4 separate regions of the Homo sapiens genome follow, and regions 1, 2 and 4 are each reported to be linked to region 3. Evidence: microRNA targets listed by miRTarBase, many of them from high-throughput screens and not tested one by one. Region 3 holds a microRNA gene; each other region holds the end of a gene's coding sequence.

Evidence for each region. Region 3 holds the annotated microRNA hsa-miR-4679 (UCUGUGAUAGAGAUUCUUUGCU, at 4,462-4,483, opposite strand). A microRNA usually pairs through its seed, bases 2 to 8, with sites in the 3' UTR of a target mRNA and lowers its output. Matches are read on the target gene's strand: a 7mer-m8 pairs with bases 2 to 8, a 7mer-A1 pairs with bases 2 to 7 and ends in A, and an 8mer does both.
Region 1: miRTarBase lists LRIG2 as a target of hsa-miR-4679. Seed matches in the 3' UTR shown: 8mer at 1,370-1,377.
Region 2: the mRNA of TPD52L2 is a reported target of hsa-miR-4679. Seed matches in the 3' UTR shown: 7mer-m8 at 2,919-2,925 and 7mer-A1 at 3,277-3,283.
Region 4: miRTarBase lists TOMM40L as a target of hsa-miR-4679. Seed matches in the 3' UTR shown: 8mer at 1,598-1,605.

The regions. Positions count from the first base shown.
Region 1 is chr1:113,123,458-113,127,457 of GRCh38, forward strand. LRIG2 (leucine rich repeats and immunoglobulin like domains 2) reads left to right here. Exons shown (of 18, transcript NM_014813.3): 18 at 418-4,000. The coding sequence ends at 644. It also overlaps the pseudogene RLIMP2. Among named protein-coding and RNA genes, the nearest start is that of LRIG2, 52 kb to the left of the region's middle.
Region 2 is chr20:63,887,077-63,894,892 of GRCh38, forward strand. It overlaps TPD52L2 (TPD52 like 2), which reads left to right. Exons shown (of 7, transcript NM_003288.4): 6 at 2,114-2,162; 7 at 2,774-4,462. The coding sequence ends at 2,869. Among named protein-coding and RNA genes, the nearest start is that of DNAJC5, 4.1 kb to the right of the region's middle. RefSeq lists enhancers at 7,263-7,432, 7,365-7,816 and a cis regulatory region at 7,348.
Region 3 is chr10:89,058,920-89,066,735 of GRCh38, forward strand. It overlaps MIR4679-2 (microRNA 4679-2), which reads right to left and starts at 4,492; the gene lies at 4,416-4,492. It overlaps MIR4679-1 (microRNA 4679-1), which reads left to right and starts at 4,417; the gene lies at 4,417-4,491. LOC124902587 (small nucleolar RNA U13) reads right to left here and starts at 2,212; the gene lies at 2,112-2,212.
Region 4 is chr1:161,228,755-161,233,012 of GRCh38, forward strand. TOMM40L (translocase of outer mitochondrial membrane 40 like) reads left to right here. Exons shown (of 10, transcript NM_032174.6): 9 at 1-63; 10 at 202-1,992. The coding sequence ends at 341. NR1I3 (nuclear receptor subfamily 1 group I member 3) reads right to left here. Exons shown (of 9, transcript NM_005122.5): 5 at 4,053-4,192; 6 at 2,575-2,720; 7 at 2,363-2,479; 8 at 2,059-2,164; 9 at 915-1,172. The coding sequence ends at 1,043. Among named protein-coding and RNA genes, the nearest start is that of MIR5187, 3.7 kb to the left of the region's middle.

The DNA of each region.
Region 1 (4,000 bases), not on the chromosome of region 3:
CAGCTACTTGGGAGGCTGACGCAGTAGAATTGTGTGAACCCGGGAGGCGGAGGTTGCGGTGAGCCGAGATGACGCCATTGCACTCCAGCCCGGGCAACAAGAGCGAAACTCCATCTCAAAAAAATAAATAAATAAAATAAAAAATTTTGTAGCAACAGAATCGCTAAAATAACAGGTGACAGTAGACGATATATAGTATGATCTCAGTAAATAATTGGTTAGGTTTGTGAAGTAGAGGGATTTGAAAGACCATGTTCTGGTGGTGGTTTTTGTGTGTGTGTGTGTGTGTGTGTGTGTGTGTGTGATTTCAGTGTCCCTATTCAGGAATATTGAACATCTTTATTTCTTTGAGGATTTGGCTAAAAGGATATTAAGTTTTACCAGTCACTACTGATAATTCTTGTCTTTCATTCTCAGAAACATTGCAGCGGCCCGTGTGGAACATAAACAGAGAACTAGGCCTGCCTCATCCTCCTTTTTCCCAGCAGCCAGTCCATGAGTCACCACAACTTCATCAAAATGAGGGCCTGGCAGGGAGAGAGCCAGACTGTTCTGCTTCTTCCATGTCCTGCCACAGGTTACAGGATCATGCTTTTGATTTTAGTAGGACTCGGAACATTCAAGATGGTAGTGAGGGCACATGAAACTCACTTCAGGATGAAATCTGGGCAGAGACTTATTAATTAATTTTGCATTTACTACCTCAGAGCTCAGAAGAAACTCCGAAGTCAGCATTTGCTTTACTCTTTCTTTATGATTGCATCTGACCGCACCAAGGTGGGCCATGCGTTGTTTGGTCTTATACCTGATGAAGAAATGGCAACAGCTGACAGAAATGGGTACAGCTCATCAAAAATGTGCAGCACCGGCAGAGGGAAGATACGGGGCAAATGTGCTTCCTGATGCTTCCATGGGGATGTGCCCTGGTGTGCATCTGCTTGTCAGGAAGAGTCACATTGCTGCTTAACATGCTGGATTGCCCTAGTCTTCAGAATGGTCCTGAGAAAACATCACTACTTCGATGTTCTACTTTGCTTTCCAAGGAGCAAAAATAACTTTGGAGCCTTCTGGGAAGTGTGCCTGGGATTCTTCAGTGGTTTCAGGCAGATAGTTGAGACTGGGGCTTTGATATTCAAGGTCTTTGGCAAGAATCCCAGGCTTGACCAACTGGTACCAGGTCAAAGATTTTTGTATTCTTGTGAATTTTTTTTTTTGTCCCTATTGCCCAGGGATGTCATTGTAAATATATGTGCATTTATAAATAATTTTTGTATTCATTGACCATATGTGTTGGCTGCAATGTAAATATTTTTGATATGCCAAAATTATATGTAATATCCAGTTATAATATTGACAAGTAGCTTCTCAGATCACAGATTTTAAATAACTCAATTTAGTGAGATCTAAAAATTTTATTTAAAGTATAAAAACTGTGGCTCACACCTGTAATCCCAGCATTTTGAGAGGCTAAGGTGGGAGGATTGCTTGAGGCCAGGAATTTGAGACCAGGCTGGGCAACATGGTGAGACCCTGTGTCTGCAAAAAAATAAATTAAAAAAATAGGTGGACATTGTGGCATGCTGCTGTAGTCCTAGCTACTTGGGAGGCTGAGGTGGGAGGGTCACTTGAGCCCGGGAAATCAAGGCTGCAGTGAGCTGTGTGAAGCCACTGCATCCCAGCCTGGGTGACAGAGTGAGGCCCTGGCTCAAAAGTAAAATAAATAAATAAAAAGTTTTAAAAACTTACTTGTTAAGAAGTGTATCTATAGAGGCAGCTACTTAGTGATTGTATACACATAAACACAGTCTTGGTGTAATTAACCGCCTTCTTCATGCCTAGAGGTTCATACTTCTGGTCATTTGCCATCTGTTTAAAAGTGCTAGGTGATACTCCCTTTCTAACATAAAAAGCTTGTTCTTTCAGAGCCTGGCAGTCCTGTCACAGCTGTATGCACCTAGAGGAAAACTTGTTTGGAAATTCCTTTCATTTCCTCCCCCTCTCCCTCCTTCCCTCTTTTTTTTTACTGAAACAGAAATTGATTGAGGAAGGTTCAGTCATTCCTTCAGGAACCAATGAGTTAGATCGGGTTGTTACTTTATGTATAATGAACGCTTCAAAAACTGGAGGCTGATTTAAAGATTGCAGAACTTGAGTCAGACTCATAAGCAGTACTGTGACATGAATTGGAGCCAGAACAGTTGCTGATATCAGAACCATCTCTTTCATTCTGTGACTTTGCTCTTGCCATGTTCTGACTGGGGTGAGCCGCTAGGATACAAATCACTATCACTGTCCATATTTGAGTCTGCAAATCTTGTCATTGTCTGCTTTAATGCTCTTTGAGTTGCAACAGGTGTATTATTTAAATGAGTATTTGAAATTCTGTGAACAGGAATTCTTTTGGTAGTGAAATAGGTGCTCACACCTGCTTGCTCAGAATGTGAAAATATTATTTCTGAGTTCTCTTTGTTCACTTTCTAAAGTGACTGTTGTTTGGTGTTGGAGATGTTAACTGGGTTCTATTAGGTGTGCTATATCTTGGCAAATATTCCCCATGATGAACTCTTCCTACTATCACAATCAGGACTATGACTGGATTTCTCAGTCTCAGTGCCCCAGATTCACCATTTCTGATTGTGTCTGGAGAACGTTTTCCTGGAAAGGCATTCCATGTTCCAAAAGCTACAAAAACATGCCACTTTGCAACTATGGGTCAGTTATTTGCTCTCTCAATGTCTCATGTTGCTGAGTTCTAGAAAATCTCTGTCTCATTTACCAGGGGTCATTCAAAAGTCTGAGATGTATATTATCATGAAATATTTGTGAAATTTCTCACCATGAATTTGGAGGGAACCTACTTTTATTTCTCGCTCTGGTTCTCCATTGGTCTGGGCTCCTGCTTCTCAGTCTTCTCTGACCTCTGGTAAGTGGAACTTTCATTAATACTTCTGTCGCACTTTGTACCTGACCTAGGTGGCCTTGCAAATGTTGACTCAGATTGTGGATTTTCCACTTTCCTCTGTTTTCCCTATTTTCTCCCCTGGGAAATCTTGCAGATGATGCATATTCATTTTCTGTATTCAGCCTTCCATTATTAAGGATAAAATTGATCCCTACATTGAATCTGAAATTACCACTATATGGATTACTCTGGCTCACTGCTGTCCAAGCTTGGTTTTCTCTTTGCTTACTTCCTGTCATATTTTCAGTTTGCCCAAAAGAGGTAAGCCACTTTATTACAGACCCATTACTAGTGCTAGACGTCATCCACCTCTGTTTTCACCTGATTCTTGTGGGGAATCCTCTTTAATTTGTTGTAACCTTCTCAGCAACTCTTCTGTACTTCACCTATAGTGCCTAGCAAATTGTTATCACTCATAAGCCTGTAATCTTCATCACTCAGGTTATTTGCAAGTAGAAAGCTTCTGGAACCATTTGTCCATCCGACTTCTGCACTGGGCCACATCCATCTTCTTCATTGTCAGAATCTGAGTTTTCTGTCTTGAAGAACAGCTGGAAAGTTGTCTGGCTGTTATGACACAGTATTGAAATACCAGACTGAGTTTCAGTTGTTTCTAGTTGTGTTCACTTTGTGCTTTCTCTGAATGGGAATATCTTCTTTCAGCAAAGTTCTTCATTGACCAGGAAACCAAAGATTGCTTCTTTTCCAAGTTTGTTTTGTTTTTAATCTTTTACCAATGTGCAGTATATCTTAAGAAGGGAAGAGTGCTCTTGGGAGTAGAAGAACATGCAAACATTCTTTTTTCTTTATTATTATTTGAGATGGAGTCCCTCTCGGTCACCCAGGCTGGAGCGCAGTGGCATGATCTTGGCTTACTGCAACCTCCGCCTCCCAGGTTCAAGCAATTCTCTTGCCTCAGCCTCCCAAGTAGCTGGGATTACAGGCACACCACCATTTCCAGCTTTTTTTTTTTTTTTTTTTTTGATATTTTTAGTAGAGATGGGGTTTCACCATGTTGGCCAGGCTGGTCTTGAACTC
Region 2 (7,816 bases), not on the chromosome of region 3:
TCCCAAAGGGCCCTCCTGCAGACCAGAGCAAGCTCCTCTAGGCCAAGCCGGGGCGCCGCCAGCACGTGCCCTTCTGCTGGAACCGGGAGGTCTAGAGCCAGGCCCAGAACAATCTGTGATTTCTTGTGTTTTTACTTGACTTGGTGGTTTCTCTTTTGCCAAAAGGTCCTTACTTGACTTCTGAAGGCTGTTTGTACCAAATACTTTTCAAAAGCCCAAGCCTGGTCTCCTCACAGCTTCCTATGGCAGTGCTCTCCCCCCTCCCAGTGCTATGCGCTGGGCAACTTGGGGTGCCCCCCATGAGGCCAAGGGAGGACCCTGGGGTCGAGTTTCCTTCGGGGGCATTGTGTGGAGGGGCAGGCAGCTCGCTCCAACTGCTGGGAGTGGGGGAATCCCAGCTCTGCCCATCCCTGCCAAGTTGGGGTTGTGTGTGGATCTTGGTGTTAACTCTTGCTTCCTTCTCTGCTTCTGCCATGCTTCCAAGCAGCAGCTACTCCATCCGCCACTCAATAAGTATGCCAGCCATGAGGTAATGTATGCCTGCTCGCTGCGGCTCCAGAGCCGGGTGTCTCTGGTGGGGGTTGGGGCAGCTCCCGCCGGTTACACCTTGCCCTTCCCATATTCCTGGATTAATTGAGGACTCCATTCCCTTGGCAACCTCTGATGACTAAGGGCCGGTAAAAACCCCCTCTAGGCTGACGAGGAAGAGCTGGTAGGGGGTCAGGCTCTTCACCTGCAGCCTCCAGAGGAGATCCTTGTGTCAAACTGGGCCGTGTCCTTTCCAAGTCCTGACCCTGGCTGCCTGCAGTGGGTGGGGTGGGGTTCGAGGGGCTCGCACACAGATCCTGGCACTTGCCCTGGTGGGCTGTCACTCAGGACACTTCACGGTCTCAGCCTTCACGGAAACACCCAGAGCTGTGGTCCTTATTCTGTGCCTGTCAGGCACCACCCTGATTCTCAGGATTCTGTGCCTGTGCCGTGAGGCACTGCCCTGATTCTCAGGAGAGCCCAGAACTGTGGTCCCTATTCTGTGCCTGCGCCGTCAGGCACCGCCCTGATTCTCAGGAGAGCCCTGTTCTCCTTGTGGGGACTCTGGCTGGGTGTCGCAGACGTGCTGGCCTCTAGAGTCCCCGGGCCTGGGAGGGGTATCTGTTTGTGTGGGAGGGACTGAGTGGGATGGAGCTGGCCTGCTTTCTCCTCTTGTCTCCTTATCACTCTGCTGTCCCAGAAGTGTCCTTGGTCTTCCGTTTGCTTCTCTGAGAGATGTGCATGAAGAACTGCACAGACTTTTCATAACTTCAGTACGAGAGCCCAGGGTGTCCCTGTAGGGGACAGCAGAGAGGGGCCGACAGCCCCCCAACTGCGCAGACTTTTCATAACCTCAGTACGAGAGCCCAGGGTGTCCCTGTAGGGGATAGCAGAGAGGGGCCGACAGCCCCCCAACTGCACAGACTTTTCATAACCTCAATACGAGAGCCCGGGGTATCCCTGTAGGGGACAGCAGAGAGGGGCCGACAGCCCCCCAACTGCGCAGACTTTTCATAACCTCAGTACGAGAGCCCAGGGTGTCCCTGTAGGGGATAGCAGAGAGGGGCCGACAGCCCCCCAACTGCACAGACTTTTCATAACCTCAGTACGAGAGCCCGGGGTATCCCTGTAGGGGACAGCAGAGAGGGGCCGACAGCCCCCCAACTGCGCAGACTTTTCATAACCTCAGTACGAGAGCCCGGGGTGTCCCTGTAGGGGACAGCAGAGAGGGGCCGACAGCCCCCCAACTGCACAGACTTTTCATAACCTCAGTACGAGAGCCCGGGATGTCCCTGTAGGGTATGACAGAGAGGGGCCGACATCTCCCCAGCTGCACAGTCAAGGGGTTTCCAGTTGCCTTGTGTGACGTCTGGACCTGTCCCTGTGGTTGTTGGGCATGGCCGACCTCACTTTTGACCTGGGGAGTCTCCGGAATGACCTGGCTGTCTCACAGTTTTGCCATGAGATCTTGGGATGTTGTTAGGGACCCTTTGGAGGCTGGCCCTAACCCTGAGGCCCTTCCGAGTTAGGAGAGCAGCACAACCCTCTCCTCTTGACACCGACACTCTTCCCTCTCTCTTTAAAGGAACTCTGCGACCTTCAAGTCGTTTGAGGACCGAGTTGGGACCATAAAGGTAATTGTACCTGGACTGTTTGATGGTCTTGGCAAGGTGTGACCTGTTACAGCAACTTGTTTATTATTAGTCATTTAGTTATGGTAGACTCACATACAGTTGTGGGAAGTAATGCAGAGAGGTTCCTTGTGCCTTTTACACAGTTCTCTCCTGTGACGACATCTTGGAAAATCCTGTAGTGCAGCCTCCCCACCAGGACATTGGCACTGACTCAGGACACAGAACGCCTCCACACTGCCCTTCCTGGTCCCCACTGCCCTTCCTGGTCCCCACTGCCCTTCCTGGTACCTTCTTGGCCATGCTGACCTTCCTCCCGCCCTACCCCCGGCAACCCCTAGTCCACTCTCCCTTTGTATAATTGTGTCATTTCAAGAATGTCACGTAAATGGAACGATACAGTGTGCAGCTTTTTGGCATTCACTGTCTTCATTTGGCATCGTTCTCTGGAGACCTGTTGGGGCTGGTGCCCGTCCGTGATTTGCTCCCTGTCCCTGCTGAGCAGTGTTCGTGTTACATAAGCTTTTGTAGAGCATTGAGCATGGGCCTGGGATCTGCCTTGTGTTGTGTGCTCTGTCTCAGGTTTTTCTGTCTTCATCTTTTCTCTCCTGTAGTCTAAGGTTGTGGGTGACAGAGAGAACGGCAGTGACAACCTCCCTTCCTCAGCGGGGAGTGGTGACAAGCCCCTGTCGGATCCCGCACCTTTCTAAGCCTGTGGTTGCTTCACCCGCTGCAGAGCACACGCAACCCAGCCTCAGCATCACAGCCGCAGCTCTGTTCAGCGGAGCAGCCAGCCAGGGCGGATGAGCAGAGCCGGCCCTGAGGACAGTCCTGCCCATCCACGCGGAGATGTGGCTGCCGCGTTTGCATGAATTTGAAGAACACAGGCTTGTACACAGATGTTTTACACTCACGTTTGTAGATGAAACAGATCACTGTGCTGTCCTTCCTAGGGGTGCAGGAAGTGGACAGGGCGGAGGGTTTGAAAGAATATTGAGCCAAAGCCCAGGCTCCCTTTGGGAATCATGTTAGCCCATCAGAATGTTGAAGGATTGAAGAGTTCTAAGCATAAAATAAGTGGCATTTTCTGACTTCTTCCTCCTCCTCCTTCCCTGACTCACAGAAGGAATGCAATCACCCAGCAAGTCCTACCTGTTACGCAATTTTTTATCTCAAAATGCCGAACGAGAAAACTGTCCATTTTCTGAGACCCCCAGAAAGGAAACTGACCCTCAGCAGCTGCCTGATTGTTACGCGAATCTAGCTTTAACGGAAGCAAATTCATTATTTTTTAAATGCAGTGGACTTTTCAAAAAGTTTAAATTAGGCAAAGCAGCTTTAGCCTCATAGAATATTATTTCTTTGGACTCAAGCTGAAATACAAGCCTTACATTGCCTTATGCTTTATTTCTTTCTAATTTTTATATGTATATAGATGAGGGTTCCTTAATGGTTGTGAGCATTGTGTGGAATTTTACACCTGGCCTGCGTGGCAGCCTCTTCCAGTTGAGGTGTTTTATGTCACGCACACTCCATCCCAGTGTACAAAACCTGCTTCTCTTCTCAACCGTGGCAGCTCCCGCTGGCTCCTATGCCCTGCCCTAAAGGGCTCTTGAGCCTCTGGGAATGGGAGGGGCCAAGAGAAGGAAAACCCTGTCTTTAGCACCCTTTAAAAGAACTGTGCCCCCCTTCTCAGTGCTGCCTTTGCATGGGCCTGGCCCGGCTCACATTCGTCAGTGACTCCAACCCTCCTGCTTGCTGTACTTGGGATGAAACGACCCCACAGGTCAGGTGGAGGGTGGGGCGTGGGCATCAGCCAGGATTGCCGTTACAGTCTTTTTCTCAGGAGCTACAAAGATCTCTTCCTGTTACTAAATAGTCGCACCCCAGCAGCCTCTCTCGCACACCGGGGCCCTGCATGTCAGATGGCGTGGTCTGCAGGGGGAGCTCTGTGCCTTAGTGGCTCTTGGCAGGACACTGAGGGCCTGCCTGTGGTGTGCCCGGCTCTGCCACTCCCGGGAGGGGAAGGGCTGCTCAGCTCAAGGTGTCCTGTTCGGTAGAGCAAGTGTCCTCTGACAGCCGTGTCCCCGGACAGTTCAGACACCCTTGGGGATGGCACTCCACACACGACAGAGATGCAGGGGCCAGGGAAGCCCAGCGCTCGGTGCCCTTCGTCCAGGGTTAAAATCGGCCTGTGGGGTGTGGTGAGAAGGCAGGTTGTGCGGGTGTTGACCGATGTATCTTTTCCTTAAAGTTATTATAATAATGGGTAATTTGTCAATAAAGCATTCCTTTGGGGGAAAGTCCGCCTCGGCTTGTGTGATGTATCGTTCGGGACCATGATAAGAGTGGTAAATGAACTGGCACACGGTACCTGCCCTAATGAGTCCGCACCCTTGGGAGAGGCAGGCAGGGGACAGTGCTAAAGACAAAGGGCAGGTCCTCAATGCTGGGACAAGGGGAGCCAGCTGTGAGGGGAGAATGGTATATGGCCAACCTGTGAGGTCAGACCCAGCGTCTTGGGAAGAGGAGTTGAAACTGAGCCCCAGGAGGCGGAGGAGGAGCTCACCAGGCTCCAGGTTGGGCCGGGAGCTCCAGAGGCTTCGCCAGCTGCCCCTGCAAGCACTGAGCTGCTGCTGAGCACACCTGTAGTCCCCGCCATTCTGGAGGGTGAGGCAGATCACCTGAGCCCAGGAGTTCAGGACCAGCCTGGGCAGCATACCGGGATTCCATCTCAACTAAAAACAGTAGGCTGGGTGTGGTGGCTCATGTCTGTAAGCTCAGGACTTTGGAAGGCCAAGATGGGAGGATCACTTGAGCCTGGGAGTTTGACACCAGCTTGAGCATCGTAGCCAGGCCCTGACTCTACAAAAAAGTGAAATAATTAGCCGAGTGTGGTGGTTCACACCTGTAATCCCAGCTGCTCAGGAGGCTGAGGTAGGAGAATCATTTGAACCCGGGAGGTGGAGGTTGCAGTTAGCCGAGATCACGCCATTGCACTCCGGCCTGGGCGATAAAGCGAGACTCTGTCTCAAAAAAAAAAAAAAAAAAGAAAAAGAAAAAGGAAAAGACCCTTGAGGGGGAACCTCCACTCTGCCCCTGGTCTGGCGCTTTGCATGTATCCATTCCTAGTCTTTGGAGTTCCCACTGGAAAACTAGTGGGAGCACCAGTCTTCCTTTGGAGGTCAGAGGTAGCTGGGCTCACCCCAGATGTAAGAGCAGGGAAAGTTAGGTGACCTCGAATTGTATGGTACATAAGCCCCAATACAGCAGGGAGCTGGTACCAATAAAGGGTGAAATGCACTATTGCCGCCTGCAGTCAAGATTTACACTAATTTATTTTGGAATGAGTTCATGTGTTCTTCATTTATTGAACAGATACTGTAACTGCCCTGCGGGTAAGAGTCTGCTAGGTTTTGTGGGGTACAAGGGTGAATCTGATGTGGACCCAGTGCTCAAGGACTTTGCAACCCGTTTGTTGGGGAAGACAGATTCCCCTAAGTCACTGGCTTGTGTTTGACGAGGTGAAGCGCTTGGAGAGCTTCGAGGATGGAGCAAGTGGAGTAAGTGGACCTGAGGAGCGGGCAGCAATGCCTGAAGGCTCAGTCCCCTCTTCTCAGAGTGAGGGTAATGGTATCTGCCTCATCATATTGAAAGGCTTAACCTTATAAAGCACTTAGCACAGGGCCTGATGTATCAGAGGTAAACATCAGACTCTTCCCAACTGTAGCCACTGTCAACTTTCCTGTCTTCTTTTTTTTTTTTGAGACAGGGTCTCACTCTGTCGCTCAGGCTGGAGTGCAGTGGTGCAATCTCAGCTCACTGCAACCTCCACCTCCTGGGCTCAAGCGATGCTCCTGCCTCAGCCTCGCGAGCAGATGGGATTTACAGGGGCATGCCACCACGCCCAGCTAATTTTTGTATTTTTAGTAGAGACAGGGTTTTGCCATGTTGGCCAGGCTGGTCTTGAACGCCTGACCTCAGGTGATCCGCCCACCCCGGCCTCCCAAAGTGCTGGGATTACAGGTGTGAGCCACTGTGCCCGGGCGTACCTTCCTGTCTTATTTTCTCCAAGCAGGCTGGAATGTTCATGGATAGATATATGTGTGATAATATACTTTTTACATATCATGCATCGTGCTCATTTTAGTTTCAGGAGTTCTTTGCTCCTGTGTAGCCTTTCTACACATTATCTTTCTTTTTTTCTTCTTTTTAAATAAGAGATGGGGTCTTGCTCTGTCACCCAGGCAGGAATGCAGTGGCACAATCATGGCTCACTACAGCCTTGACTTCCCACCCGATCCAGCCTCCTGAGTAGCTGGGACTACAGGGGCATGCATGCCACTGTGGCCGGGCCAATTAAAAAAATTTTTTTTTATAGAGATGGTGGTCTCACTATGTTGTCCAGGCAGGTCTCAAACTCCTGGGCTCCAGTGATCTTCCTGCCTTGGTCTACCAAAGTGCTGAGATTCCAGGCGTGAGCCATGGGTCCCGTTGTATACATTTCAGTAACTATATTATTCCATTTGAGTGCTCACTTGTGCAGTTGGGCAGGTTTCCATTCTCGCTATTAAAAATAGTGCCTTCATGAATATTTCAGTGCATATACCTTTTTCTGTATTTAGGAATATTTTCTTTGGAAGAATGTCCCTAAAGTGGAACTGCTAGGTCTCAGAGGGACTCACTTAAGGCTGGTTCATTCATTCTTGCAGCTCCCAGCACAAGTGGAATATAGCTTCAATCTGAGATCGGTACCAGGCCCATTTCATTCTCTCATCCCTCCAATTCTGGCCTGAAATATTTCATTCTCTTGGAATCTATAGTTGTAGATATGAACCTGGCCTTTCTGCTTCTTGGGTTCCATAGGCCTTTTCTTGCTGCCTGCTTGATGTTGCGCAGCTTAATGACTGCTAGGAGGCTTCCCAAGCTCTGACACTTCCAGGCTGTGAGACTGGAACAAGCTTGGCAATTCAAGACCGGCATTATGGCAGTGAGTTATGAGGGCAGAGGAAGGAGGCCAGAGCGTGTTGAGAGAGAATTTGGGTTTCACGCAGTGTGTCACGGGAAGCCTTGGATGCTACTGGGTTTGTTTTAAAAAGATGACCGCACTGAACTCAGGTAAACGGGCAAGGGTGGAAGCGAGGAGGCAGGAGCACCGGCCGCAGAGGTCTGGGAGCTTCTAGGATGGGAAGTGGCCCAGGCAGCCTACGCGGGGCAGGCCGTCAGTGAGTGGCGGAGCGCCTGCAGTTACAGGGACAGGGAAGGGTGGCCGACGGGATGGGCAAGGGCAGAGGGAGGTGGAGTGGACGTTCGTGGTCCTGCCTCTCCACGCTGCTGTTTGGAGATGATTCCGGGAGGGTGGGAGGGCGCTGGCGACGGCATTTCAGTGGTTGGACAGGAAGGAAGGAAGGACGTCCCATCTCGGCGCTCCAGGGTTGAGCAAATGTCAGTCCCAGGACGGTGGCTCCGGGTGGGGGCGGGGGCGACGGTCCGCAGCCGTCTCCCACCAGCTCCCTGTTCAGTTCTTTGATGAGAACGATTACGTTTTCTCAGTCTTACTTAAAGCGCTGAGTAAACTCACCTGCAAGACCAGCAAGCCCTGCGCTTCTCTTTCTGCGCGGTTCCCCGCAGCACATGGCGTGTCCACCCGGGACCCA
Region 3 (7,816 bases):
TGCCCTTTGATTCCTTGTTACAGAAGAAAAGTAAGTCTTATTATGTATAGCAGGGCCACAGTTGTGTAACAGCTATGCGGAGATATTGATCCTTGCATCCCTCTGAGTTGAAATGTAAAAGAGAGGATGAGGGGGCCTGGGAAGAGATGTCCTTAGTTGACTCCTTCAGTCCACAAATAGCCCTCTCCTCCCATATTTTATAAAAATATAATATATTTTATACGATATTATAAAAATATAATTGTGTATGAGTATCATGATGGAAAAAAGAAATTAAACCTGCATGTGTAGATTTCTGTATTAGATTTGAATCAATCCTAATTGATACAGCTATTGGTCTTCATTTTCCTTTTTATACTACAGAATATCTTAACTATCTATTCATTCATATATATAGCATTTTCTTTACATATCAATACAGTATTCTGTGCCATAGATGTTCTACGGCATGGCATTCTCTATATGATAGTTGTTCATTTTCTTTTTTCTTTCATTCTCTCTCTCTCTCTCTTTTCTCCTCATTTCACCAATACTGCACTGAGTATTTCTATGAGTATTTGTGCACTTTTATAATTTTCCCTTCAGAAAAAAATTACAAAAGTGGAATTGCTTGGTGAAGAATATGTATCATTTAAGTGTTTAACTGCTCACAGATACTGACATAATCAAATTGCCTTTCAAACTGATACCAATGTACATTTCCACCAACAGTAAATCTGCTTGTTTTCCCAACCCTAGCCATTATGGGTTGCAATCCATCTTTTTATTCATTATCAATCTTATTTTTTCTGTTTTGCCATCTTTGGTCTGAAGGTTGAAAGCAGAGAAAAAAATAGAGATTGAGATATCTAAAATCTTCATCCCATCATATGACTGTAATATGAGAAAAACGCTAGAGGAAAACTAACCATGAAGCTATATCTCATAAAGAGCTTATGTGGCACTGAAGTTTTCAGGGGAAATTTGGGAAAATGCATTTTATATTTCTGGGGAAAATTACCAAATGTAGTTTATTGCCAACACCATTTGGTGTTCCAGAGAAATGGGCCCTTTCTTACAATGTTGTGGTTTATATCAATTGGTGTTAACATTTCATAGTAATTTTGCAATGAGAATTAAACATTTAGAAGTGTATCCATCTCTATTTCAATATTTTTAAAAAGTTCTAATAGTCATAAAATCAAATATTTATTTACAAGGATGTTTGCTATAGCATTATTCGGAATAGAAAAAATTATCTGAAAATAAAATTTGAAACTACCAATAAGTACTTTATTAAATAGTTTATTTGATACCCACACATTTGATGCCCATAGTATTATTTAGTAATTTAAAAAGTCATGTTTAAATGATAATTTTTGAGTGAGAAAATATTTCTGAAATATCAAGAGACAAAGAAGGATACACAAGAATATATATATATAATATGACACCCTTTTAATGGTACATATGGAAGATATTTACACCAAAATATTCACCATGAGTATAAAAGATATGATATGGCTTGGATCTGTGGCCCTGCCCAAATGTCATGTCAAATTGTAATCCCCAACATTGGAGGTGGGGCCTGGTGGGAATTGATTAGATCATGGGGGCAGTTTCTCATCAATGGTTTAGCACCATCTCTCTTGGTGCTGTTCTCATGAGAGAGTTCTCATGAAATCTGGTTGGTTAAGTGTGTCTGTAGCACCTCCCCACCTCTCTCTTGATCCTGCTCTGGCTGTGTAAGAAGGGCCTGCTTCCCCTTTGCCTTCCTCCATTACTGTAAGTTTCCTAAGGCCTCCCTAGAAGCCAAGCTGATGCCAGCATCACGCTTGTTATACAGTCTGCAGAACTGTGAGCCAATAAACCTGTTTCCTTATAAATTACCCAGTCTCAGGTATTTCTTCATAGCAATGCAAGAATACACTAATACAAGATGGTTGAGATCACGAATGAAATTTTATTGACTTCCTCTCTTCTTTTTTAGTAGTTTAAAGTTTTATACTTTAAATAATTATTCTTTATGCAATCAGAAAAAGGATATATTAACAAAATAGTGAAAAACTTAAAAATAGTAGTGATGTTCCTTTAAATTTCCTAGGGAAGATGGTGTGGCCTTTTTATTTTCACATCACACAGGTAACATGCCACAGTCACAACAATTTTTGAGGGAAGCTCATCTCACACATGAGCCTAAAAACCCAGTCACACTTGTGAGATACAAAAGAATCAATGTGTTCTTTTGAGAAATACAAGTAGGGTTGAGAAATATAAGTAAGTTTGAGAAAAAGCTGAAAGCCTAATAAATAAGTACTAAAGCCATGCTAATGAATAAAGAGACTCGACATGGTAAAAATGTCTACAAATTTAATGAAAATTCAATCAAATTTCAAACAAGTTTGTGTGTATGTGTATGTGTGTGTAAGTGTGTACATGTAGAAAGTAACAAGATGTCTCTATAATTTATATCAGAAATGCAAAATCTAAGAAATGCAAAAATCTAAGACAATATTACAGAGGAAAAACAAACCTTACTAGCTTATACACTACTAGATGTTAAGAAATGTTGTAATTAAGCAGTTTCAGTGTGGTACTTGTGCAAGAATAGACACACAGACCAATGAAACAGATAGAGGGTCCAGAAACAGACCTACATATTCAAGGTCACTTGATTGTTGGAGTGCAGTGGGGTCACGGAAAGGATGATTTTAATAAACGATGTTGAGCCAAGTGGATATACATATTGAACAAAATAAAGTTTCATTCCTAATTTTTGTTTTCACTGGAAATAGAAATTAATTTCAGATGGACAGATGGTAGACTGAAATACGATAGGTAAAGCAATGAAGTTCCTAGGTTAAAACTTAGTAAGAATGTCTTTATGACCTTGATGCAATCTAGAAGCACTAACCATAAAGAAAAAAAGATACATTGGATGCTACTGTAATTAAGAATGAGAGTCCATCAAATCATATTTTTAAGGCAGTGATAAGACAAGCCACAGAATGAACAAAGATATTGCAATACAGATATCACCAAAAATTTCATATACAGAATATATATTTTAAAACTCCCAAAAGTGAATAGAAAAAAAATCAGATAACATAATAGATAAAGTAGGCAAAAGAAATGAAAAGACACTTTACAAAAGAAGATATTCAAATGACCAACCAACGTAGGAAAAAAGTTCAAATGCTGATTGAAACCAATATAATTTCACAATTACAAGAATAGCTAAAATAAATAAGCAATCCCAAGTGTTGGTGATTTTGTGAATCAACCAGAACTCTCCTAAATTCTTGGTGGGAGTATGGGTTGATATAAATACTTTGGAATACTATTTGACTGTATCTAGGAAAGCTGACCATGAACATTCTCTATGACTTGGCAATTTCCTTTGCGAGCGTATGTCCAGAAGAAATGCATACATATAGTCACAATAAAACATGTAAAAAAATGTGCATGGCAGAATTTTTTGTGCCAGCACCAAACCAAAACTATCTCAAATGTCCATCAAGAATAGAATGAATGCCTAAATTGTGGAATTTTCATACAACAGCAGAAAAACAATGCTACATGTAACATATATAATTTTCACAAATATAATGTTGAACAAAAGAAGCCGGTATAAACTGTATTATTTCACTAGTATAAATAAAAAGCAGGAAAGAAGTAATCTATGTGTTATATATGAGCATAGTGGCTATCCTTGGAAGAGTAGTACCTGGTAAGGGCATAAAGGTACTGATAATGTTTTATGTATTGATTTACTTGCTGATTATCTGGTATGTTCACTTGTAAAATTTCACTAAGCTGAACACTTGAATGTGTGTTATACTTTAATAAAATATATACTTTAAAAGAAGCTGCTAAAGAAACCATTTGTATGTTTATATCAAGTTACCTGGTGGAAAAATTAGTTAGAACATGATTTAAAAACTTTTTTTAAGTTTAAGATAAACCTAGTTGCCAAAAACCCAGTGTGGCCTCAAGCTTCTATGTGTGTTGAAGTCTTGAGACCTAGACAGGATATAGGTTCCAATCATATTTTCTTCTTCAAGTTTCCTGATCTCTGAATTGGCTCTTCCAGTAAGTTCTTGACTTGGCCCCTCTTGGTAATTGTCTGATTTTGGTGCTCCAGTCCTTGGCTTCCTGCCTGACTCCAGCTTGGCTCAGCCCCAGTGTGTGATACCAGGTCCCAGTCCATGACTGACTTTTTGTCTGAATCGACTCATGGTTTCATCTCCCCAGTTTTTGCCCCATACCAGCAGTGTCTGATAAGCTTCCAACATGGGTTGATGAAATCACTTTTCAGATAAACCTTGAGAGAAAAAATTAAAACATTGAAAAAGATTTGTAGACAAAAATAGATTTTCTCTCCATTATGACTTATATAAAAGAAACAAAAGCAGAAACAAAAACTTTTGCTTTACCGTCTTTTTTCTGTGATAGAGATTCTTTGCTTTGTTAGAAACAAAAAGCAAAGAATCTCTATCACAGAAAAAAGATAGTAATAAGCACAGATGCCCAAAGAAGCCAGGCAGACTTTTTTTTTAAAGGTTTAAGTTTTATATAAAATGAACTTTTCTATTAAAAGAAAAACAGATGATTTTTTTCCATTTTTTTCTAGAATTATACAGCTCTCAGTCTAAATTTGTAACACAGAGAAATATGTGCTTACTATATATATGAAAAATAACAGTGCCAATACCTATTAATAGTAATCCCTTTTAGGGCAAACGTGGACTGTAGTAAGTTGTAGAGCCTATGCCTTATCTACAGCAAGTAGCTGCTATTCTGTTCCGTGTGTGATATTGTGGAGATGTGCAGACCTAGTGCAAGAAGAGATAGAACCTATGCTTTTAGGTAAAATCTCCTGGTTTGTAAATTTAAATTCAAACAATTTAAAAGACTGTGAATGTCAAATAAAATATGTTTGGAGCTGGATTTGGCTCAGAGACAATTAGTTTGTAACCTCTTCTAAGGGTTAGCTGTATATTCAAGATCTCTTCATTAAAGAAATTCCGGAGGACTATTCACGATGAAAATAACTAGAGATTTCAGTGTCCTGTAAAAGTCTTGGACCAATCAAGGAAGAGTCCATTTCAACCACTTTTTTTTTCTCAGATTCAGAGACAGAATCAGATTTAAGTAGATTAGCCCATTCATTCATTTATTTATTAACTCAACAAGCATTTATTTGGCAGCTGCTCTTTCCAGATGTACCTCAACTTGTTTCAATTCAAATTATTTAATTAGTTTCAAGTGGAAAACCAAATGAAAGCAAATTCACAAATAACAAAAGATTTTGCTCAAATGATAGCCCTAGGCTTAAATTTCAAAACCATGACCCCTCTCTGGAAAAATATTTGTGCATCAATTGGCTTTTATGGTAGTAACTTAGAGGTCATTCAAGGAATCTGGAAGAAAATTAAAAGCCTCTGAAAGCTGACTTTTTCAACCAAAGGGAAAAAAAGACTCAGTAGGCACAAACAATTCAATAAATGAATGCATGCAGAATGATATTTAGAAGTGAAAATAGCAATTAGGGCTAAGGTTCTAAGGGTCAAGGAGAGTTTTAAGAGTAAAATTTTGTACATATGTAAGTGGTCTCACTATTCCACTTCCAAGTCTATTTTTGTTTTAAAGGGAAAGGCATAAAGAATAAAATGTCAGTCACCCCAACATTTTTTTTTTACTTTTGTGTGTGTGTGTGTGTGCTTTTTCTTCCCTAATAGGAGGAGAGTTGAGATCACTACTCTTTTCTCTTGTTATTGTCTCTGGGGTCTAGTTTTTCCTTCTACAGGCCAATCTTTAATAAATATTTTTCTTCTCACAATGTCACTCGAAGAACCCAAACACTAATTCTTTTAAATGACAATGATTATCCTTTTATGCAACATCAATTCTCCAAGCTACTCGGGGGCTTCCCAGAGAAGATGTTGAAGCTGCCAACTCAACTCTTATTGAGTGGAGTCACTGTGAATTCTTTCCTGGAACCAAAGTGCGTCTTTTCCAAACTCTGTTTACAAAATTCAATTTCTTCACTCTTCAGTTCCAATACAGCTACTGACAAAGAAAAACGAGCACATTCTTTAGCAATTCCAAGGTCAAGATCATGGGACAAAAGGGCTCTGTGGTTTGTTTCTTCTTACCAATATCTTGTGCAGATGAAAAAGGGCTGGTAAATTTCCCTATAATAAGGTCGTCAAACTCATGTTTGATTCAGAGAAAAAAACTGTGGACTGTATTTTGTTTGCTTAGCCCTCATCCTAAGTAGAAAAGAATGGAAATGCTTAGAAAACTCTCCCTGGCAAGCTCTCCCTGTCTGCCCGTAACCTTCCTGAGCCTGTATTCCTTTCTCCATACCTGCTTCTCCTGGCCTCACATCTGCTGATTTATGAGCATAGGATGATGCCTTGGTGACAACAGGATATGGCTCCCTGCCTCCTAGATTTCTCTGCAATGACATTTTCTAGAAGAAGACAGTCTGTGAAGTTTACCTAGCACGATATTTTAAAAGTCCTAGATTTAGAGTCAGAATTCTAGCTGGATAAATCAACCTCGATAGCTATAGTTTCCTTATCTATATAATGGTGTTAAATATCCACATCACACAATTGAAATAAAAATTAAATTGAAAAATATAAAATATCCAGAATGGTGCTTTGTGCAAAGGAAGTTCTCTATTAATGATGGCTGAATTTGAATTCCTAAGAGAAATGGCATCTTGAACATTGATCATGTATTATTTGCAAAACTTTAAGAGAAGAGGCAATGCAAATTATCCACAAATATGTCTGTTTTCTTTCTCCAAAAGAATTGAATATATTACAATATTAGTAAACTAAACACAAATTATTTTGTCAAAATAGATGCAGACTTCCAAGCTGTATAGTTAGTAACACTATCACTGGAAAACTCACATTTTTCCCCAAAGAAACCCCTACAAGCTTTGAAATTCCAAATTCAACTATCCAGAAAATTAATATAAAGGTCAATATGGGACAGTCTTTCTAGTTGAAAATACTATTGATTTTTTTTCCACTCAACCATTTTTGAAATCTGAAAAATAGGTTAACTATATTTTAAACATTCACTTTGGTCTATCTGGTTCTTTATGGTTAAAAGTTATGGGATCTGGCCAGGCTTTTCTCTGGAATCAAGGATCATTGTCTGAGAAAGATCAAAACCACTCACTGTCTTGAGAGACTGACAGTTTGCCCTCTTCACTGAGCCTCTGCAGGGAAAACTGCATACATGTACTTTAAAAGCATTCTATTGAAGTACAACATACCTGCAGAAAAGTATGTACATCCTAAGTGTTCAGCACAACAAATTTTCACAAACTAATCACATTTACATAACCAGAAGCCAAATAAAAAATCAGGATAACAACAGGATCTCAGAAACCCCCCCAGGCTCCCTCCAGCCCTGCCCATCCAGGGGTAACCTAGCAGCATAGAGGAGTTCCACTAGTTTTTGTGTTATATAAAATGGCTCATACAGTATGTACTCTTTTTTGGTCTGGCTTTTTTCGCTCAACACCATGTCTGTGAGACTCCTCCATATTTTTGCATGTGTCTGTAGATCAGTGTAATATTTCATTGTGTGGATATATCACATTTGTTCACCTATCATGCTGATGGGTATTGGGGATTGCCCCCCACACCCAGTTTTTGACTTTTACAACTAATGCTGCAATAAGCATTTCAGTGATTGTATTTTGAGGAGCATATTGCATGTTATTTTTTTGGTTATATACCTAAAAGTGGAATTGCCAGATCAAAAAATAAGGATGCCTTTAGCTTTAGTAGATAATAAATACTAACTG
Region 4 (4,258 bases), not on the chromosome of region 3:
AAGACACAACATTCTCCTTTGGTTACCACCTGACTCTGCCCCAGGCCAACATGGTATTTAGAGGTGAGGGTTATTGGGAGACATTTGGCTATCCTGAGGAATGGGGGATGCAGAGGAGGGAGGGAAGCTCGACCTTACTTCTGGTGACTATTTCCTCCAATCCCTGTTAAATAATCTAGTGGGTATTCTCTCCCCCAACAGGCTTGGTGGATAGTAACTGGTGTGTAGGTGCTGTGCTGGAGAAGAAGATGCCCCCTCTGCCTGTCACCCTAGCCCTTGGAGCCTTCCTCAATCACTGGCGCAACAGATTCCATTGTGGCTTCAGCATCACTGTGGGCTGAGGTTGTCCAGAGCCAGCCCCCACAGCAGCTGGAACCTCTGAGTCAGGTGCCCTAGGGCCAAAGACTAGGCCCCTCTTCAGAGCCCACCTTGCTGGGTGATCTCTAGGACCCAGGAGCAGAGTGGTGGACAGGACCATGCCCTCCTCAGAACTGGAGCTGCCACAGGGGCAGTTGATGAGGCAGAGGTTTGAGGATCCCCCCTCTGCTACCAGCCCCAGTATCACCTTCCCCATGCTCTTGTGGCTGTGGACTAAGGGAGAAGGATTAAGGGGTATGGCTGAATTCCCCCGGCACCCCTTGCCCTCAGGCTTCCTTCTTCCTTTCCCTTTGGTTAATCCTGCATGGGATTAGCTGACCATCCTGTTTTCCATCCCAGAGCCTCCCAAGGCTGGGAAAGTAGGGCTGAAGGGCTAGATGTTTGGTCTCAGGAAGTGGGGCCCACCCATTCCCAGAAGGAGCTTCTTTACCTCTTAGCCCTGAGGTTTCCTCCTTCCCATCTTCTGTGCTTCCAGAGAACAACTTTGTTCCTATGGTCACCCCCACTATCCCCATGACCGCATGAAGAGGCAGTTATTGCTTTAGTCTTTCATTGCAACCACTGGGCTCCCTTTGAACCCGGCCCAATCTTTGGTCCCAGCATTTTCCCACTCCAGTGTATCCAGGGTGTTCCAGGTGAGCTGGGGAAGGAAGTGAGCATGGCCTCAGCTGCAGATCTCCTGGAGCAGCGGCATCATGGCAGACAGGCCCTGGATGTGCTGGATTTGGTACCCGTAGGCCTCATTAATGCTCCGGAGCTCAGCCAGCAGGCCTAGCAACTTCGCATACAGAAACCTTTGGAGGAAGTAGTGGGGTTGCCAGGAAAACAGGAGGGAAATAAGGCAGTTGGGAGTCTTGTCTCTAGGCCCTGATCCCCTGAACTATTCCTCAGTGAAGCCAGGTCTGAACATTAGAGAAAATCATGCTCTGGTATGACAGACTATCAGAGGTTCCAAAGGTCCTCCAGGGGGCCTCGGTCTGACACTGTCTTCTCTCACCATGCTCAGTTTTTTCTGAACCCAGAGCTCTGAGAGCCGAGTGTGAAGAAAGCTCCAGACTTGGCCAGAACTCCAACCATGTGGAATCTGAGGGCCTGGCCTTCTAGAGCAGGTTCTAGAAGGTGGATGTGTTCTATGGTATAAAGCATCCCCTTTCTGGCCAAACTAGCTCTTGGAGGAACGAGCAAAACAGAAGCGGTGCATACCTCAGAGCCTGGATAAATCACAGACTATTGAACCTGGAACTGGCTTTGACCATGAAACTGTGAATGGCCCTAACTTCAAGGGAAATGAGAAATCGAAGGAATTGGCCCAATGGCGAGGAGAGGAAAGGCCAAGGGAAGAGAAAAGTCTGCGTTAGTCTGGAGAAGTTGGACTAGTGAGGTAATGGATGTCATCAATCTCAGGAATGCTATTACCCAGAGCCTCTGAGCTACTACTTTGCATCTGTACTGAATAAAAAAAAAATCTGGAAAAAGTGAGATGAAACAGCAGTATCCAAATACAGCAATTTGGATGCTGAAACGATGTGAGACAGGGATGGCCAGGGGGAAGGACTAGACCCCACGATACCTGAATTCCCTAAGGAAAGGACAGTAAAAAAACATTCCTCCCAAGCTCAATGTTTCACCAACCCCTTCCTGCCCTGGTGTGGCCTCCAAGCCCTCAGTGTCCCACCGTACCGATCCCGGGGCCTTCGCTGCTGGCCCTTGATGTAGCTTTGCAGAGTCAGTGCCATCTCCTCTTGCAGCTGATCAATCTCATCTCTCTGGGTAACTCCAGGTCGGTCTGTAAGATAGGGAGCTGGGAAGGACAAGTTGGGTGGCAGGGGTGGGCCTGCGTGGTGCCCCGGGGACTGAGGCTGGGATAGACCTAGTCTGCAGGTTTGATAGCTAGGCTAGAAGGCCTGGGTGGATGGACTCAAGGAGCTGAGTATTTGGGCAGAGGTGGTGCAGCAAAAGGCTCTGGGCTTTGGGAGGTGCTCACCAGGAGAGAAGAGGGCCATGGCAGCCAAGAGCACATACTCAGGCTCTTGGAGCTGCAGTTTTCGTAGTGTTCCATGGAAGTGAAAGAGCAACTCCAAAAACTCTACCTGGAACCCCACTGTGGGAGATACTAGGATTAGGAGCCTCTAGGTCACCTGACCACATCCTGTACCATGAGGACACATGCCCCCTATTGCTCTAGCACCATCTCACCACGGGCTCCATCTTCAATTGTGTAGCGAAGAGGCCCGCAGAGGAAGTTTTGTGTTTGGAGACAGAAAGTGGTATTGAGTACGATGTGACAGATTTCCACAGCTGCTCCCTTGAGAAGGGAGATCTGGTCTTCAATGGGCAGGGAACTGTGGAAAGCAGGAAACAAGGACACTTTTCAATTTTTTTTTTTCTGAGACAGAGTCTCACTGTCACCCTGGCTGGAGTGCAGTGGCGTGATCTCTGCTCACTGTAACCTCTGCCTCCTGGGTTCAAGCAATTCTCCTGCCTCAGCCTCCCAAGTAGCTTGGATTACAGGCGTGTGCCACCATGCCTGGCTGATTTTTTGTATTTTTAGTAGAGACGGGTTTTCACCATGTTGGCCAGGCTGGTCTCCAACTACTGACCTCAGGTGATCCACCTGCCTTGACCTCTCAAAGTGCTGGGATTACAGGCATGAGCCACTGCACCCGGCCCACTTTTTAATTTTTTGTTTGTTTATATGTTTTTATTTTTTGTAAAGATGGAGTCTTACTATGTTGCCCAGGGTGGTCTCGAACTCCTAGGCTCAAGCAGTCCTCCTGCCTTGGCCTTCCAAAGTGCTGGGATTATAGGTGTGAGCCACTGTGCCCAGCCGACAAGGGCACCTTATTATTATTCTTATTAATTAATTTATTTTTGAGACAGAGTGTTGCTCTGTCACCCAGGCTGGATGTAGTGGCCTGATCTCGGCTACAGCAAACCTCCGCCTCCTGGGTTCAAGTGATTCTTCTGCCTCAGCCTCCTGAGAAGCTGGGATTATAGGCGCCCACCACCACACCCAGCTAAGTTTTGTATTTTTAGTAGAGACGGATTTCACCATGTTGGCCAGGCTGGTCTCAAATTCCTGAGCTCAAGTGATCCACCCACCTTGGCCTCTCAAAGTGCTGGGATTACAGGCATGAGCCACCGTGCCTGGCCTATTATTATTATTTTTAGCTTTCATTTTTTGAGACAGAGTCTCACTCTGTCACCCAGGCTGGAATGCAGCGGTGCTATCTGAGCTCACTGCAGCCTCAACCTCCTGGGCTCAAGTGATCCTCCCACTTCAGCTTCCTGAGTACCTGGGACTACAGGCACCCACCATCATGCCCAGCTAATTTTTGTATTTTTTGTAGAGTTGGGGTTTTGTCATGTTGCTGAGGCTGGTCTCAAACTTCTGGACTCAAGCGATCTGCCAGCCTCCGCCTCCCAAAGTGCTGGGATTACTAGTGTGAGCCACTGCGCGGCACCTCAAGGGCACTTTAGATGCAAGCCTGTACTTCAGAGATGGAGAAGAACTCCCAGTTCTGATTGGCACATTTAAAACCAAAGCTGGGAATTCAAGACCTAATGCTTGGAAAGGCTGACGCATGTGATAATTTGTAGTCAGTGACTTTTCGGGGTGGATATACAATTTACTGAAGTGTTTGCCTCCTGAAAGATGAGGGGAGGTCACTCACCGGAAGACGGGCAGGTCCTTAGTAAACTTGATGACTTGCAGTACCATGAAAGTGTTGATGTCTGCGAAGTGTGTGACCAGAGGCAGCACAGGGGCCAGGGTGGGCAAGGGCTGGTGATGGATGAACAGATGAGCTGGAGGCTGCAATGATCAGAACATTAGCTAGAGGCTCTGGCCCTAGGGCCCTCCTTTAGGCCTCGCCAGCCT